3 separate regions of the Homo sapiens genome follow, and regions 1 and 3 are each linked to region 2. Evidence: fine-mapped expression QTL. A gene starts in region 2. Each other region holds a variant in brackets. All regions are shown on one strand. Distances are between the middles of the regions.

Region 1 (4,242 bases), 140 kb before region 2:
AGCTTTAGATCCATGTATCCAATTTCCTACCTAATACTTTCATCTGGAAGTTTCACATGCATCTAAAACACAACATAGCCAAAACCAAACTCTTGATTAATCCAAAACCTTTTGCTGTTCCCTATGTCACCCGCATTGTTAAGCAGGCCAGAACTTGGAGTCACCATGACCTTTCCCTCTGCCTTACCCTTCACATTCAATTTTGCTTCCTAAACCTCTTTGAATCTGTACTTTTTTCCCTACTTCCACTCCCACTATCCTAGTCTAAGCTACCTTCACCTCTTCCTGGATAACCTTAAAAGCCTCTTTATTGGTCTATCTGCCACTGTTTTGACCTCCACCTCCCACAATGTATGCTGAGTGAGTTCTTCATCTGATTTTCATGTCTTCCCTGAGATGTTTAAAATGTTTGCATGCCCTCCCATGATTTTAGGATGCAACATTCCTTAACATGACCATAGGCCCTGTACCTAGCCAGCTTTAGATCAAACCATGCTCTGCTTTGCTCTCTTTACTCCAACCACTGTGGCCTTCTTTCACTTCTTTTTTTTTTTTTTTTGAGATGGAGTCTCGCTCTGTCACCCAGGCTGGAGTGCAGTGGTGCGATCTCTGCTCACTGCAAGCTCCGCCTCCCGGGTTCACGCCATTCTCCCGCCTCAGCCTCTGCAGTAACTGGGACTACAGGCGCCTGCCACCACGCCCAGCTAATTTTTTGTATTTTTAGTAGAGACAGGGTTTCACTGTGTTAACCAGGATGGTCTCAATCTCCTGACCTTGTGATCCACCTGCCTCAGCCTCCCAAAGTGCTGGGATTACAGGCGTGAGCCACCGCGCTCGGCCTCTTTCAGTTCTTTTTACCTGCCACGCTTCCTCTCACCAACTGCTCTTTGTCCAGAATGCACTTACTTCTGTAAGTTTCACCCTTTCTTCAAATCTCAGCTCAGTTATGGCTTCCTCAGGGCTGTCTTTCTTGACCTCTCTGACCAGGGCAACTCTCTACCATATGGCCCTGGGTACTTCTCCTTCAGGTGCTGATCACAACTGTCATTTTATGTTTCTTGGTGTCATTTTTTGGTTGAAATATATTTCCCACTGAATATGACTCCATTAGGGCAGGAACTGTGCCTGGTTTCCGGGGCTTAGAACCAGTACAGTGCCTAGTGCATAGTAAGTGCTCAGTAAATGCATTTGTTGAATGAATGAACAAATAAATACATCAATAAGTACAGACGTTTGTTTTCTGTATTCCTTTGGCTCCTTCTTCTTCTTCTTCACCCTACCCTTTGTCCAGGCCTTGGGACTTCAAATCATGGATTTTTTTTTTTTTCTTGAGTCAGAGTCTTTCTCTATCGCCCAGGCTGGAGTGCAGTGGTGCGATCTCAGCTCACTGCGACCTCCGCCTCCCAGGTTCAAGCGATTCTCCTGCCTCAGCCTCCCGAGTAGCTGGGACTACAGGCACCCGCCACCATGCCCGGCTAATTTTTTGTATTTTTAGTAGAGATGGGGTTTCACCATGTTAGCCAGGATGGTCTTGATCTCCTGACCTCGTAATCTGCCCGCCTTAGCCTCCCAAAGTGCTGGGATTACAGGCGTGAGCCACCGCACCTGGCCAAATCATGGATTTGGTTTATATGTCCAGTGCCACCACTGGGCCTGCTTCCTATTCTGGGTAATGAAATGTATGAGATGCTGAGTAGCTTTTGGACACTTCCTTTGTAATATATTTTGCTCTCCTGCAATAATTTTGTTATTATCAGGGTTCTATTCAGGAGTACAGGCTTAGGTAATAAGACAGTGCCACCTGAGGAAGGGTGCTCCTTGACTTAGAACAATAAGATAATGAAATTGGAGGTAACTTTTGGTAATCATTTAGTC[T/C]AGTTTCTCAAGCAAGGCAGAGATTCTTTATGTACCACTTCTGACAGATGATAATAATGTTTATTGAGCATAGTCCAGTTATTGTCTTAAGGATATTGATACAGATGAATCCTTTTAATCCTTAGCGACCATATGGACAAATACAGTTACTATCATGCCCTTTTTATAGCTGACGAAATAGTGGAATGCCTCATCTAAGACCATGCCTCGTCTAAGTCAGTAGCATAGCCAAGGTGCAAGCCCAGGCAGTTTGGCAGAGCCAGAGATTTTCACTGCTATGCTATGCTATGCTGTGCTGTGCTGTGCTGTGCTGTGCTGTGCTGTGCTGTGCTGTGCTGTGCTGTGCTATGCTATGCTATGCTATGCTATGCTATGCTATGCTATGATATGCCACTTCTGTAGTTAGCCAACGGTTATGTAAACACTTCCAGGGATGGGAACCCACTCGATGGTGAGCTGAGTACTTAGGCTAAAATTGTCTCCTATAACTTCAAGCCGTTTTCCCTAGTTTCAGCCTCTAAAACTATATGAAATAGCCTGCTCCAATGTCCATAGGACAGTTATTAAAATAGGACAGTTATTAAAATACTTTCAAATTCTAAGAGTAGTTTTTCTGTTCATAAAAATAACATATGTGAAAATTTGGAAAATCCAGAAAAGTATAAAGAAGATAAGAACCCTTGATAAACTGGGAGAAAATAAGTATTAACTGCCAAGAGTCTATTAGCTTTTTGTTATAATTTTTAACATTCATATTTCATTAATGGCCCATATAAAATCTGTGGCCTACCAAAACACCTAGTTCTCTGTCAGATGACCTTCCATCAAGCCAGATTTTGTCTCTATATAAAATTCTCTCTCTCTGTCTTTTTGTTTGAGACAGAGTCTTACAGGCTGAGTGGTCTTTAAATCATGGATTTGGTTTATACATCCTGATACAAAGACAGAGTCTTATAGACAGGGTCTTACAGTCTTACAGGCTGGAGTGCAGTGGTGCAATCTTGGCTCACTGCAACCTTCATCCCCCAGGTTCATGCAATTCTCCTGCCTCCTGAGTAACTGGGACTACAGGCGTGCACCACTATGCCTGGCTAATTTTTGTATTTTTAATAGAGATGGGGTTTTGCAATGTTGGCCAGGCTGGTCTCGAACTCTTTGCCTCAAGTGATCTGCCTTCCTCGGCCTCCCAAAGTGCTGGATTTACAGGTGTGCACCACTGTGACCAACCATAAAATTCTTAATGTAAAATTTTACACTTATCCCTTTTAAATTATATTTATTTGTTTGTTTTGATTCTTCTGTCTTACTGAAAACTTTTCTAATCCAGATTCTGCTTTCTAATGTTAGCCTTCCAGCTTCCAAGATACTATGTGATCTTGATAACAGGGCTTTTCAAACCTTTCCCCCAGGCATTGCTAAAATGCTAAGCCCTGTGACACATACTAGGAACCTCCCTGTAGGTTCACATGGGTCTATTCGTCAGCCATTAATTTGGCCACTGAAGAAAATACAAATCTGTATAACTGCATTTTCACTGAGCACATATATATTTTTTTCACCTTTTCTATGATGATTTCATGACTTAATGAAATATGTCACCAAAATTGGGTATGTTTCATCTATGGAATTTCTCAACTTTACTGGTATAGTAAGTCTTTTTAAAAATAGGATATCGTTTTCTTAGTTAGCTTACACTAACTCTGAATAATCACTTCTTAATTTCTAAGTGTTCACAAATCATTATCTAAATATTAATACTTCATTCTAGAACTTTCCTGGAAATCATACCAATCTGTTACTTCAACTCTTCACTGCAGTTGAAATAGCTATGTGCAGACATACTGGCCCTGACTCACATTTAATGGGGCTGAAGAAATGATCCCGTGGGTATTCTTTCTCCTTCAGGAGATCAGCTTCCTGTCAACATACAGGAAACTGAAAAGCTGCAGTCTAATAATATAGCCACTGACAGGAAGATTGTTGTTTAGATTGCCTTTCCAGATTTCTCAATTGAATAATGCTGGTGAAGGATGACTGCTTATTTTATTTATGACTTTGGATCAACTACAAGGATATCTGACTTTACATAGTAGATGTGCTGCTTCAATGATGCATATAAACCACTTTTTTTGTAAGTCAAATTCCACCTAAAATGTACTAATCTGGGAGTTTACTTTTAAGGCCATCTTGTGGTGAGACATTTTATAAAGTGAAGAATTCTTTACTGATTTATCTGTTTGCTTGGATTTTAAAGATCAGGGTTGCTTAAAGCAAGGTGAAATTATACTATTTCTTTATTTTTAGAAAAAGTAGGCTAGCATTATCTTTTGTGAATGTCACCTTGAGCAAACAGGACTGGGAAGATCT
Region 2 (4,242 bases):
AAAGAAAGCTTCTAAGTCTTATCATTTTTGTGTAAATCCAGCTAAGACTCCTTTGATGAGCTCAGTGTTTGCTGTGAAGGAAAAGCTTATAGGTGAGAGGAACACTAAAATTATAATTCTTTGTCTTCCTTAATTAGACTAGAGCTCACCATAGACCTTGCTGAAACTGTGAGAAAATCCAAGCAATAATTCACACTGTCAGGTCAGCAGAAATGGGAATGCGGGTCTGATATAACTGAAAGATTTGCTTAAGTGATCTATCTATGAACTGAACCGCTCAGAATAGGCACACGATCTTCACTGGAAATGTACCCTCTGAAGATGCTAAACACAAACAGCAATGAAAATAAATCCCAGCAAGAGCCTTATACCACCTTTACAGATGTCATCCTAGAGGAAGGATATAAAGCATATTAATACCAATTGATGTAGGGCACTAATTAATAAGTCCCATTAAATCATGGAGTAATGACATTTAGCATGTAATGAATGCCTCATAATTTCTTCATCATTAATATTTCATAGCATAAGAACACAAGCATTTTCATCCCTGGGCCAGTGCAGCATGGTTTTCTGTCTCTGACATGACCACAAGGGCATTGAGTGGCACGAGTGTATTGCACCTCTGTGGTATAGACTGACTATACCGCACAAGTGATTAACTCTTAGCACCCCGGGTCCTAGCGTTTCCTCATTTTAGAAAATGTGAATCTGCCTGCCATTCTTGGAAGTAACCTCTGTGACTGGAAGATGGAAGAACTGCCCCAGGCTCAGGTGTTGACTTTGGTGTGTAGCATTGCTTTGCTGTTGACCCCCACCCCCCAGCCCAAGAAGGAAACCTGCACAGGAGAAAATCATTACTTTGATTTATTACTGGGGGCTTGCTGTATGCAAAGGCAATAATCACCTCATGGAGCAGGTGCCACTGCCAGGGTTCATTGATTCCAGGCTCTTCTAGAAATTCCAGGAGGCCAGTCAGTCTGGCGGGAGATGGACGTAGTCAACGAAAAAAGAAGTCCATCTCATAGCAGGTTGAAATGAAGTGGGAGAAAAATCTCTGGTCATCGTTCTATCGCTCCACTGACACTCGGTGTCTTTTTCTTTCAGAAGAGGGGCTTGAGCAGAGAGAATGCTTAGAGGCTAAGCGATGGGCAAGTGAGAGGGAAAGAGCCGCGACAGATAGAGCTGGCTGCCTAGGGGTCTCAGAGGCTTCATCCTGCAGGCGGCAGGCGGCAGGACAAAGGGACCTTCGGACTCCAGATCAAGATTCCAAGGAGTTAAACGCTACCACGCAGCCCGACCTGGATGGGATTTGCTCCTGGGTACAAAACGGGACACTGATCAAAATCAACTTGGACAAGTGACAAGAGTGAGTCTTATGTCGGTGGATGTCTTTTAAGGTCGTTGGAGGGAAGAGGACGGGAGGGGTGTGCCGAGGGGTAGGTGGAGAGAGGCACCGAGTCCAGAGCCGGGATATAAATGCACCAGGAGCCGGGGAGCAGAGGAGCAAATGAGTGGGGGAAAGTGTGAGAGGAAGAGTTGGAGAAAAGTCGGGGGAAAGTAGGGACAGGGTTAAGGGGAGAGAGGAGGATGAGGGCGGCGAGGAGAGATTAAAAGGGGAAGGGGGGTCGCTGGAGAGGAGGGCGGACTGTGGATCGGAGGTAGGGAGAGGGGCGAGAGGAGTGCGCGGGGTGGGGGGCGCCGGGGCGAGGAGAGGGGGCTGGGGAAGAGGAGGGGGGCAAGAAAGCGAGAGCGGCGCGGGGGAGGGCTAGGAGCCCGGGGGCCGGGCCGGGGGCGGGCGGGCGGTGGGAGGCGAGATCAGGCCAGGGGAGAGGGAGCGAGCCGGGCCGGGCTCGCAGGGCGAGGAGGCCGTAGGAGGGAGGTGGGGGGCAGGTGGGGGGAAGAGGGAGGGAGCGGGCGGAGAGCTGGGGCCAAGTGCATTGTGTCTGGCGGCGGCGCGCGAGCCCACCGGCGGCTGCGGCGGGGCGGGAAGCCATGGAGCCGCGGGCGCTCGTCACGGCGCTCAGCCTCGGCCTCAGCCTGTGCTCCCTGGGGCTGCTCGTCACGGCCATCTTCACCGACCACTGGTACGAGACCGACCCCCGGCGCCACAAGGAGAGCTGCGAGCGCAGCCGCGCGGGCGCCGACCCCCCGGACCAGAAGAACCGCCTGATGCCGCTGTCGCACCTGCCGCTGCGGGACTCGCCCCCGCTGGGGCGCCGGCTGCTCCCGGGCGGCCCGGGGCGCGCCGACCCCGAGTCCTGGCGCTCGCTCCTGGGGCTCGGCGGGCTGGACGCCGAGTGCGGCCGGCCCCTCTTCGCCACCTACTCGGGCCTCTGGAGGAAGTGCTACTTCCTGGGCATCGACCGGGACATCGACACCCTCATCCTGAAAGGTGAGCGGCGGGCGCACCCCGCGTCCCCGGCGCCCGCGCGTGGAGCGCAGCCCGCGGCTTCCCAGGGGCGCGCCGGTCCCCGCAGCCCCCTCCCAGCCGCGGCCCCGCGCCTGGGCATTCTTGCATCCTTCCCGCCGCCTCCAGTCTTTATCTCTTCCCTTTCTTTCCCCACTGCCTCCCTTCTTCTCCCTCTCCTTGACTCTCTTCTTTCGTCCACATCCTGCGCGTCCTTTCAAGTCCGTGCCGCACCTCCCGCCTCTGTCTCCTTCTTTCCTGCCTTCGCCTCCCATTCCCCGGTTCTCTCTCTCTCCCCGTCCTTCTCTGCCTTTGTACACCTGCCTGACATGTGTGTCTTTTCTTGACGCTGCTCCCCGTGAGGGGGACTAACCGTCAAAGACTCGACTTTTCTCACCCGGGCTCCTTCCTTCAAGTTGTGCTCCTTTTGGAAATACCGTTTGGAAGAAAAGTGGTGCCGACCTCCGAAGAGAGGGAAGGGGCTTTGCCTGTATTGTGCGGATGCTGGTGTCAGACGGAACTGATGTGGTCATCCCAGCCTGGCAGGGCTGATGGGCAGCGAAGGAGGCCCCGGAACCTTCCTTCATACCCCTGAAGTGCAGGGTGTGTGTGGATTAGACTTCAGAGACCAATCGTTGGCTGGTGGAGGCTGGTGGAGGCTGCCCGAGGCAGATAGGACACCTGCTTTCCAACCTTCCTGAGGACCCCATACCCCCACCCTCCTCGCTGTCCAGGCACTGAGGAGAGAAAATGTCCTCGCCCTTTAAACTAGAGCTTTCCAGATTTGGGCACTCACTCTCTGCTTATCACTCTGTCTTCTGTTCGTGGTACCTTGTCAGGTTGTTTTTGTTGTTTGTTTTGTTTGGCACTGAGTTGCAGAGCATCAATTTGTTCTTCTGAAATCTGTGCAACACCTGTCTTCTGTGAATGCTATCAGATAGTTTGATTTTTTTTTTTTTTTTGGTAATCCCATTCACGTAAAAATATTCAGTGTGACAACTTGTGAAGCTTCCTTTAACTTTCAGAACTTGACTCAATGTATTTTTTTCCCCTTTGAGATTAAAAAAAAAAATCAACATCTCTTCTCTTGGACTCATGATGCCAAAAAAGAAAAAGTCCAAAATCAGTACATTTTAATATTTAGTAGCCATGTAGGAAAACAAACAGACGGATTTGTGTTGAGTTACAGCCTGGAATGGAATGACATAGAAAAGAGGGGGTTAATAATGTGTTGGCCTTCAGAGTCTTGCTAGTTGGCGGATTCTTCATTTCTCAAACATGTCAACTTCCTCCTTCCCATGGCTAACTCAGCTGGGGACTGCCATCCAAAATCTGTCTGCGTGTGGAAGGACTCCAGCACTTTTAGGGGAACCAGATACAGTAAAATCTTTTGGGAAGTGCACCATTTTCTTTTCTCTCCTAACTTGCATCCAAATCTGATTTCTCCTCATGAAGATGCTGCATAATTAATTCTGATAGTAGCATAGTACATGAACAAACTGTAAAAGCTGAATGTGGAGGCTCAGTTATGGAGTGCTCATTTAGGCAAGGCAATTTTGAAAGCTAAGCAGTGTAGTCTGTCTTTGGAAATGACAGAACTGCATTTCCTTACACTTTCTATGCTTAGAGTATTTGATTGCATGTAAATTGGATATAGAGCAATGCCTGAAACAGCAGGGCAGAGTCAAACCTACAGTAGAAGAGGGGACCCCCACAGGATATTGCACAATGCCTCTGCAAATGCCCTGGCTAACTGAGGTGCCAGTTCCAGGGCAGTCCAGGGTCAAATAATAGAGGTGGAAGGACTTTAGAGGTCATTGAAGTTGAACATC
Region 3 (4,242 bases), 85 kb before region 2:
GTCTAATGTTGACAGTGGGGTGTTAAAGTCTCCCATTATTATTGCGTGGGAGTCTAAGTCTCTTTGTAGGTCTCTAAGGACTTGCTTTGTGAATGTGGGTGCTCCTGTATTGGGTGCATATATATTTAGGATAGTTAGCTCTTCTTGTTGAATTGATCCCTTTACGCTTATGTAATGGCCTTGTCTCTTTTGGTCTTTTTTGATTTAAAGTCTGGTTTATCAGAGACTAGGATTGCAACCCCTGCCTTTTTTTTTGTTTTCCATTTGTTTGGTAGATCTTCCTCCATCCCTTTATTTTGAGGCTATGTGTGCCTCTGTACATGAGATGGGTTTCCTGAATACAGCACACTGATGAGTCTTGACTATTTATCCAATTTGCCAGTCTGTGTCTTTTAATTGGAGCATGTAGCCCATTTACATTTAAGCTTAATATTGTTATGTGTGAATTTGATCCTGTCATTACGTTAGCTAGTTATTTTGCTCATTAGTTGATGCAGTTTCTTCCTAGCATTGATGGTCTTTACAATTTGGCATGTTTTTGCAGTAGCTGGTACCGGTTTTTCCTTTCCATGTTTAGTGCTACCTCTAGGAGCTCTTGTAGGGCAGGCCTGGTGGTGAGAAAATCTCTCAGCATTTGCTTGTCTGTAAAGGATTTTATTTCTCCTTCACTTATGAAGCTTAGTTTGGCTGGATATGAAATTCTGGGTTGAAAATTCTTTTCTTTAAGAACGTTGAATATTGGCCCCACTCTCTTGTGGCTTGTAGGGTTTCTGGCGAGAGATCAGCTGTTAGTCTGATGGGCTTCCCTTTGTGGGTAACTCGACCTTTCTGTCTGGCTGCCCTTAACACTTTTTTCCTTCATTTCAACTTTGGTGAATCTGACAATTATGTGTCTTGGAGTTGCTCTTCTCGAGGAGTATCTTTGTGGCATTCTCTGTATTTCCTGAATTTGAATGTTGGCCTGCCTTGGTAGGTTGGGGAAGTTCTCCTGGATAATATCCTGCAGAGTGTTTTCCAACTTGGTTCCATTCTCCCCATCACTTTCAGGTACACCAATCAGAGGTAGATTTGGTCTTTTCTCATAGTGCCGTATTTCTTGGAGGCTTTGTGCGTTTCTTTTTATTCTTTTTTCTCTAAACTTCTCTTCTTGCTTCATTTCATTCATTTGATCTTCAATCACTGATACCCTTTCTTCCAGTTGATCAAATCGGCTACTGAAGCTTGTGCATTCTTCACATAGTTCTCGTGCCATGGTTTTCAGCTCCATCAGGTCCTTTAAGAACTTCTCTGCATTGGTTATCCTAGTTGGCCATTCGTCTAATCTTTTTTCAAGGTTTTTAACTTCTTTGCGATGGGTTCAGACTTCCTCCTTTAGCTCGGAGAAGTTTGATCATCTGAAGCCTTCTTCTCTCAACTCGTCAAAGTCATTCTCCATCCAGCTTTGTTCCATTGCTGGTGAGGAGCTGCGTTCCTTTGGAGGAGGAGAGGCACTCTGATTTTTAGAATTTTCATTTTTTCTGTTCTGTTTTTTCCCCATCTTTGTGGTTTTATCTACCTTTGGTCTTTGATGATGGTGACGTACAGATGGGGTTTTGGTGTGGATGTCCTTTCTGTTTGTTAGTTTTCCTTCTAACAGTCAGGACCCTCAGCTGCAAGTCTGTTGGAGTTTGCTAGAGGTCCACTCCAGACCCTGTTTGCCTGGGTATCAGCAGCGGAGGCTGCAGAACAGCGAATA[T/C]TGCTGAACAACAAAGGTTGCTGTCTGATCGTTTCTCTGGAGGTTTCATCTCAGAGGGGTTCCCTACTGTGTGAGGTGTCAGTCTGCCCCTACTTTGGGGTGCTTCCCAGTTAGGCTACTCGGGGGTCAGGGACCCATTTGAGGAGGCAGTCTGTCCATTCTCAGATCTCAAACTCCGTGCTGGGAGAACCACTACTCTCTTCAAAGCTGTCAGACAGGGACATTTAAGTCTGCCTAGGTTTCTGCTGCCTTTTGTTTGGCTATGCCCTGCCCCCAGTGGTGGAGTCTACAGAGGCAGGCAGGCCTTCTTGAGCTGCAGTGGGCTCCACCCAGTTCGAGCTTCCTGGCCGCTTTGTTTACCTACTCAAGCCTCAGCAATGGCAGGCACCCCTCCCCCAGCCTCGCTGCCACCTTGCAGTTCGATCTCAGACTGCTGTGCTAGCAATGAGTGAGGCTCTGTGGGTGTGGGACCCTCTGGGCCAGGCGTGGGATATAATCTCCTGGTGTGCCGTTTGCTAAGACCATTGGAAAAGCTCAGTATTAGTGTGGGAGTGACCTGATTTTCCAGGTGCCGTCTTTCACAGCTTTGCTTGGCTATGAAAGGGAATTCCCTGACCCCTTGCACTTCCTGGGTGAGGCGATGCCTTGCCCTGCTTCGGCTTACGCTCGGTGCACTGCACCCACTGTCCTGCACCCACTTTCCGACACTCCCCAGTGAGATGAACCCGGTACCGCATTTGGAAATGCAGAAATCACCTGCCTTCTGTGTCGCTCACCCTGGGAGCTATAGACTGGAGCTGTTCCTATTCGGCCATCTTGGAACTGTGCCCCCGATAACTGATCATTTTTAGACTCTTCTGTGTTCATGCCTTCAAGGACTTGCAGATGTCAGAATAAAGATAACCAACTGACAATGATCTCTTGCATTTCCTCCTTACCCTTTTCAAATAAACATTACCTTTACCTTCTTTTTAAAATTCTATCAATATTGGCAGGGCGTGGTGGCTCACGCCTGTAATCCCAGCACTTTGGGAGGCCAAGATGGGTGGATCACGAGGTCAAGAGATCGAGACCATTCTGGCCAACATGGTGGAACCCCGTGTCTACTAAAAGCACAAAAATTAGCTGGGCATGGTGGTGCGCACCTGTAGTCTCAGCTACTCAGGAGGCTGAGGCAGGAGAATTGCTTGAACCCGGGAGGCGGAGGTTGCAGTGAGCGAAGATCACGCCACTGTACTCCAGCCTGGTGACAGTGTGAGGCTTAGTCTCAAAAAAAATTATATCAATATTAATGTCCTGATTTTTATTGATATATAATAGTTGTACATATTTTGGGGGCACATGTGATATTTTGATATATGTATACAATGTGTAATTATCAAATCAGGGTAATTGGGATATCCATCACTTCATTTATCTTTGTTTGTATTGGGAACATTACAATTTTTTTCTTTTAGCTTTTTTGAGATATACAATAAATTATTGTTAACTATAATTTCCCTCCCATACTATTGAATGCTATGACGTATTTCTTCTATCTAACTATATTTTTGTACCCTTAACCAAGTTCTCTTGTTCCCCTCTCCCCTCTTCCTTTCTCAGCCTCTCATAACCACAGTTTTACTCTCTATCTCCATGAGATCCAGGTTTTAGCTCCCACATGTGAATAAGAACATTGTCTTTCTGTGCCTGGCTTATTCACATAACATAAGATCCTCCAGTTCCATCCATGTTGGTGCAAATGACAAGATCTCATTCTTTTTTAACGGCTGAATAACATTCCATTGTGTATATACACCACATTTTCTTTATCCATTCATCCACTGATGGACACAAAGGTTGATTCTATAGCTTTGCTATTGTGAATAGGGCTGCAATAAACATGAGTGTACAGATGTTTCTTTGATATACTGATTTACTTTTTAAAAATATGTATCCAGCAGTCGAATTACTGTATCATATGTTCTATTTTTAGTTTTTTGAGGAACCTTCATACCATTATCCATAATGGCCATACTAATTTACATTTCTACTTACAGTGTATGAGCATTCCCCTTTCTCCACACACTTGCCAGCCTCTGTTTTGTTTTTGTTTTTGTTTTTTTGTTTTTGTCTTTTTAGTAATAGCCATTCTAATAGATGATATCTCACTGTGGTTTTGATTTACATTTCCCTGATGATTAACGATGTTGGGCATTTTTTTGTATACCTCTTGGCTATTTGTATGTCTTCTTATTTTTTACTTAAAAATTTTTTTTCCTTTTTTTTGTCTTAGTTCATTTTATGTTGCTTATAACACCATTTGTATGTCTTCTTTTGAGAAATGATTATTTGGGTCTTTTGACCATTTTAAAATCAGAGTATTTGTTTTTGCTTTTTGCTATTGATTTGTTTGAGTACCTTATGTATTCTGGTTATTAACCTTTTATAGGAGAGATTGTTTGCAAATATTTTCTCCATTCTGTGGGTTGTCTTTTCACTTTGTTGACTGTTTCCTTTGCTGTGGC

Alleles and levels. Alleles are on the strand shown, and positions count from the first base shown. SD is a standard deviation of normalised expression in the study named. Not every link is listed here.
With allele T in place of C in region 1, the expression in left ventricle of the gene that starts at base 1,938 in region 2 is lower (small effect, 0.26 SD a copy in GTEx).

The links. PIP is the estimated chance that this variant, and not a neighbour inherited with it, causes the effect. A credible set is the group of variants that fine-mapping cannot tell apart.
Region 1: its variant is the best candidate, but not a certain one, in a credible set for the expression of TMEM178A in left ventricle (GTEx, PIP 0.79).
Region 3: its variant is the best candidate, but not a certain one, in a credible set for the expression of TMEM178A in lung (TOPMed, PIP 0.76).

What each region holds. Positions count from the first base shown.
Region 1 is chr2:39,526,733-39,530,974 of GRCh38, forward strand. All of the region lies in intron 5 of MAP4K3-DT (MAP4K3 divergent transcript), which reads left to right. Among named protein-coding and RNA genes, the nearest start is that of MAP4K3-DT, 91 kb to the left of the region's middle. RefSeq lists an enhancer at 578-637. The variant T/C (reference allele first, on the strand shown) is at 1,876.
Region 2 is chr2:39,663,980-39,668,221 of GRCh38, forward strand. It overlaps TMEM178A (transmembrane protein 178A), which reads left to right and starts at 1,938. Exons shown (of 4, transcript NM_152390.3): 1 at 1,938-2,395. The coding sequence starts at 1,996.
Region 3 is chr2:39,578,598-39,582,839 of GRCh38, forward strand. The region is part of intron 5 of MAP4K3-DT (MAP4K3 divergent transcript); the gene reads left to right. Among named protein-coding and RNA genes, the nearest start is that of TMEM178A, 85 kb to the right of the region's middle. The variant T/C (reference allele first, on the strand shown) is at 1,736.